Regions from separate parts of the Homo sapiens genome. Here region 2 is linked to region 1. Evidence: fine-mapped expression QTL. Tissue or cell type: gastroesophageal junction. Region 1 holds a variant in brackets; the other region holds the start of a gene. All regions are shown on one strand. Distances are from middle to middle.

Region 1 (2,912 bases):
TTTGTGTCTGCCAGTGTTTTCATTAAGTTTTCTCTGAACGGTGTCTGTAGTCTATTGTATTCCTCCTTTCCTCTATCAAGGATACTTATCTAGTTTCCAGACTTTTGCCTCCGCAAAGAGTGCACATTGTTTACAGAGGTCCCTTTATACCTAGATGCTTTTACTTCTATGGGAGAGATTCCTAAGAGGGGGATTTCTGGTTTAAAGGGAATGCGTGCTTGCAATTTTAACGATGTTGCCAGGTCACTTTCTCAGGCGTCTGGGACAGGGTTTCACCAGCAAGGCAGGAGAGCAGCCTGCTGCTTGTTCTCACCATGAGCGTCCCACCTGGAGATCCCACCTGAAGATCAAAGGGCTAATCCACTCCAAAGACTTCGTTCCCAACTTCAACATTTCTCGCTGCAAACCGAATCTCCTCCCTTCCCTTGTGAAAGGAAGGGGAGATTGGGAGGGGGAAGAGAAGGCTGGTGGGCCAGAGGAGCGTCCCTGGATTCTCAGATGGCTCCTTCCTCTAAATGGATGAGAAATGTGGGGTGAGACCAGCAGGCCTCTGTCCCCACTCCAGCCTACAAACCACACGGCCAGGCCCAGGTGTCTCTTAGGGAGAGGTGGGAGCCAGCCTGGAGCACAGGACTCCACAGGGCAGGGAGCCCACAGCGCAGGGGCGGTGGCTGCTGACAGCCCCAGAGACCATGACAAGGAGCACTAGACAGCAAAGAAGATGCAAGGATGGAAAGGAAGCTGCATGCAGCGTGTTCCCCCCAAGGCCCAAAAGGGTCCTTCATTCCCTGCGAGTGAAACTATGTTCTTCTTGTCCTGGAAAGAAAACAAGAAGACAATTGGCATGTGGCTGATCTACCCAGGCTGGAAAGAAGAAAGATTGAAGTGACTATTCTCAAATTTAGGAAAATCTATTTAGGATATTTGGACACAGATGTACCTCCTCCAGTGTCTAGGACATTGGGTGTGACCTGACACTTCCGTGACCTCTACACCCTTTCCAAACTGGCCATGATCAGTGGTGGGGTGTGGGCAGGGGGTTGGTACTGGGCAATCCCAGCAGAGCTCAGTATCAGTCTGCCCACTTGAGCACTGGCCATGGCATAGCAGGCTCTCTCTCTTTCTCTCTCTCCTTCTCTCTCTCTCTCTGCCTCGTCATCATTGGCATCTCTTCTCCCCTTACTTGTGTGTGAAATTAAGCTGACC[C/T]TATATGCTGTTTTTGTGACACAGAATCATCCATAATAAGCATTTCATAACTCAATCTGTTTCTGCCAATTGTTTTAAATCTCTCTTATTAGCTATGTTAGGCATGCTATTATCTTAATCTTCTTAACATCCATATGAGAGTTTGACAAGTCAGCAGGGGATCTTGCCTTTGCTGCCAAGGATATGTGATTAGGTTACAGCTCCAGAGACTGTGATGGCAGAGCCCCAACCAGGCCAATCTCCTAAGTATATTTCTTTAACTATAAAAGACCTCAGTCCCCCAAAGTCCAGGAAGTAACAGTGCATCCATGAGAACAAAGACACTTCTACAGACCAGTATCTGGGGCTTTCATCCAGTCATTTAACTTTGTGTATATAAGATAAAAAGAAAAAAGGTGAGAAAGACTCCCTCCCGCCCGCAATGACCCTAACCTCATCTGGGAGGCTACTGCAACAACCCAGCTTTGTTCTGGCAGGCTACAGAAACAATTTTAATATTCCAAAAGAGTTAACACAAGCCCAGAGGGAGTAGTTGACACTCTGGTAGAACTTGAATCATGCTTTCCCCTAGGATCATCTCAGGGTAAGAAAATAATTTGAGTTTTGGCAGCTGTGATGACTGTGGGTAGAACAGCTTATTTCTTGGTTAATTCCTTAAATAAACCTTCATCTTTGCAAATTCTTGTTACAGCCACAACTGATGAGAAGGTTCAACTATGCTGTCTCTCTAGCCAAACCGTCTTTGGTTTAACCCTCTGTTAACTCTTCCCCTTTCTTTGTTAGGAGAATATTGTCTGGCTTCAGGGTGTCATCTTTTCATGGCCATTTATTTCCCTGTGGTCCAGTCATGTGTTATCCTAGAACGAACAAGGGAGTCTTGATTAGTACATTTGGGATTCTGGAGATGGCAGAAGAAAACAAGGCTCCAAGCCAGCTTTCAGACTGCAAGATCTTAGGGAGCATCATAATACCACAGCCAAGTTCCTCCCCTTTCTTGGAAATAAGGGTTTCAAGAGCTGCCTTCAAGCTTTGAGGGCAGGTGCAGAAGAAATAAACCATGAAGCATCTCTTCCAATACCAGTCCTGTGTGTCTACCCATCCTTCGGCTTTCTCTGCAGGGGACCTGCCTGGAAGCAATCTGAGAAGCAGGGTCAGCTCTGGGTGGGAGGTGATACATTAACAGTTTTGGGCTAGGCTGGGTTATTGACAGTTCTGACACAGATCTCAGAATGGAGTCCATTAGAGGCCCAGGACAGTGCTCACTCTAATATACACTTAGTGCTGTCTTCAAACATCCGACATTCCTTCTCCCTGAAATACCACAATCCTTCCCCACCCACCCCCACCCCCCAGACACACACCCTTGACATTTAGGAGTGTGGAGCCACTATTTCCCAAATGTGTTGACCTCTACTTGGCTTGTTTGTACCTTAGCTAAGGATTTTCATGTTCTTCTGCAAAAACTTACCAGGGGCAGCGTGGGGCTGTCTATAAGTGATGTGTTATGGAATTGCTGATTTTTTTTTCCAGGTTTCAATTTTCTACTGGGTTGTCCTTCTGAATTCCATTGCAGCCTTTCTGCCTATATTTATAATAAACTCCAAATACAGGGAGTGCTCCTTGTTTCCAGATGTGGAATCCAGGATTATGTAACTTGGAGCTGTATTTCTTTGAGAGGTGATTAAGCATGTTATCATATTATCATA
Region 2 (2,912 bases), 36 kb before region 1:
AAAAATATATTAAATTCAAATCAAATGTGTTAGGTGTGAGTTCTATCCCTACAGGTATGAGGCAGAGGTGGAGGACTTTGTATACAATAGAGAAATAAATACATATATTAGGTCTTCCATGACATAGGATTTACTGACCCTCTCATGGGCATTCCTCTGAGGCATTTTGAGATTTATTGCTATAAAAGAGCCTCCCAAACATTATCTCACTTAGAAAAGGTAATCATATTAATATGATTTTGTTCACAGGAGAGAATTTAAGTGCCACTGCTTAAAGTTATCTCCTTGTTCCTAGGTTTAAGGAGACCTAGTAAATAAGAACATTCCACTTTGTCTGCATCAATAAAGATGAAAGATGACTTAGGAGGTGGGAATTGGAGTGGGAAACATTTTTCTATGTTCCCGATATTCTGAAACACATGTGACTTTATTCAATCACAAGGTAAACAGATTATGTAATTTACCAGAAAAAAAGTAATAAGACTGGTGGTGCTAGGTTTTCATACTCCAGCTATTAATGAATTAAAGAGAGTAACACTCCTGAAAGGATACCATTTTCTCAAGAAAACTGGAAAAGATTGTGTGGCATTTAAAAAATACCAAACTCTGTGGCCATAATGCTCTTAAAATTCATCTGTCTAAAGAAATTAGAAGTGAATCATATTAAATAAGGTTTAGATATGTCCACTTTATCTTCCTGAAAATATAATTTCATTACAATCAGATTTGTCATATTTTATCTGATTTTACTTGCTATTTAAAACACCTTATAATTTACTTGCATATTTAGAATTACAATATTCTTAATATACTTCTTGATCTTAACAAAACCTAGGCCAAATGTTAATCAAATCAAGCTGTTCAAAGTTACTTTATAGCACATTCCTATGAACACACCATACACACAGCAATATCTAGCAAGGGTGTCAATTTTTCGTTATTTTTAAAAGCTCATTTAAAGAAGTTATTTACTACAAATGACTCTACACACACACACGCGCGCGCGCGCGCGCACACACACACACACACACACACAAACCTTTTTAAAGAAACGCTAGAACCCAACCCCCTCTAGGCCAGAGGAAAACATTACAGCTGTATACGCACTTGTGCCTGTTGCCGTAGAGTAATACGGTAGCAGCAGGAGATTACGGTACTAGCTGGGCTACTGCCTGAGTTACGTCAGCGAGAGCTGCAAAGTTCCTTGCTATTCTTTTCTGGTGTCGGGGAGCTGAATATTAAAAGGGTGATTGTGGAGTTACCGGTTATCTGCATTTTTTTTTCTTTTCTTATTTTGACTCTTTTTAAAAAATGCAGGTAAAGTGACAGCGGTTCAGGAGCTTAAAGACATCAGTGGTGGAGGGGTGAGTCAGCGGGTGCAAAAGGACAAGGATTTGGTGCCTCGGAGACACGGTCCCCTCTCCGCCTCCAGAGAAGAGCAGGCAGGCAGCTCCCGGGACCGAAGCCGGGTCCACATCCCCCGCGCGCGAGCTGGTGGCTCAGCAGCGGCGCTTCAGGTGAGTGCGCCGGGGCCGGCGTCCCGCAGGGCCGAGTGGGTGAGGGCAGACCTCCCCCGCCGTCTGGTGAGACGGAACCCCCACTTTTCCCAGCGCCTCCCGCTTTTTCCACCAGGTTTTATACCGGCCCCTCTACCCCACCCCCGATTCCCTTACATCTTCTGCGAAGTTGCCTTCTACTGAACAAGTGTCTTTTTAACCCTGTGTTTATCACCCTCGAGGTAGGAGGAAAAGGGTTTCTGCAGTGGCACGTTTTTAATACCACCTGTGAGGTCTCCAACTTGCGATTTTAACAAGAGTCTTTGCCCGAGGTCCCACCTCAGGGCCCAACCCCAGAAGGCAAGGTGGGCACTTCCTCACGCCGCGCTGTCCTGCCGAGTCCCTGCGGTAGGTTCGCAGTTGTGGAAACCCAGGTTTCTTACGCAGATGGTGGCCCCCAGCCCAGAAAATCGAAGGCGGCCCCTGCCCGCTGGCATGCCGGCTTAATGTTTACGCCTGCAAAATCCGCAGTGACTGTCACTTGCAAAGCTCCCTCTGCAGAGGGACGTCCTCCCCACCCCGTCCCCCGCCAGTCCCGCTACGGCTGGCAGCTGGAGCCCCTCGGGTGGCCAACAGTGAGGCTTGGAAAGGCGTCGTGGACAGACCTGGGTCGCTTTCTGTCTTCGGGTCCCTCCCGGCTTCGCTCGGGACCTGGCTCTCAAGCCAGCTTGGCTGGTGGACAGACCGGTGCGCTCTGCACACCCGAGTGCGAATTCCACCGGCGTGAGAGTGAGCGTGCTCGTGGTCCTGGCCCTGAGGTCCCTGGGTCGCAGCTGTTCCCTCTCCCAGGCCGCCCCCTCCAGGTGACTGCGAGGCAACCTGTTCTAACGGAAACCGAGTACATCCTCCAGAATTCCCCGGCTAGGATCCGTGCGACACACTCGCCAGCCGCAGTCGCCCCTCCGGGGCTTCGAGGATTTTAATTTCGTGGTACCTGCGCTCGAAATCCAGACTTCGAGCGCTGGAGCCTGGGGTTTTGGGGATTTGTTTTTTTGTTTGTTTTTCGCTTCGGATCCTGAACTCGGGCAGAGGTGACTCAGTAGAGTGCGCTAGGCAGGTTCCCAGTGGTGGGGGCGCGAGATGAGCTCCGAAGTCGCCTCCACCGCTGCCGGGCGAAGCAGCTTCTGGACCGCAGAACCAACCCGGCTCCCAACTGGTGTCCCCCAACCCGTCAAGCTCAGCACAGCCTCTTTCCCTGGGGCGCCTAGCTCAAAGCCGCCTTTCTCTTTGCGCTCTTTCAGGTGGACGCGGTCAAACGATGCCCCGCAGCCTCCTGGGTCTCAGCACATATTCCACACCTACGTCCCCTGACCTGTGCTCCTAGAAGCTGGAGAGAGCAGGAGCCTTCGGTGGGGC

Direction of the effects. Positions count from the first base shown, and alleles are read on the strand shown. Sizes are in standard deviations (SD) of each study's normalised expression.
In carriers of allele C in region 1, the expression in gastroesophageal junction of the gene that starts at base 1,175 in region 2 tends to be lower than with T alone (small effect, 0.26 SD a copy in GTEx).

The links.
Region 2: it holds the start of ADRA1A, and the variant in region 1 is fine-mapped to the expression of ADRA1A in gastroesophageal junction (GTEx, PIP 0.96).

The regions. Positions count from the first base shown.
Region 1 is chr8:26,829,604-26,832,515 of GRCh38, reverse strand. All of the region lies in intron 2 of ADRA1A (adrenoceptor alpha 1A), which reads left to right. Among named protein-coding and RNA genes, the nearest start is that of ADRA1A, 36 kb to the left of the region's middle. The variant C/T (reference allele first, on the strand shown) is at 1,207.
Region 2 is chr8:26,865,541-26,868,452 of GRCh38, reverse strand. It overlaps ADRA1A (adrenoceptor alpha 1A), which reads left to right and starts at 1,175. Exons shown (of 3, transcript NM_000680.4): 1 at 1,175-1,517; 2 at 2,798-2,912. RefSeq lists an enhancer at 1,954-2,905.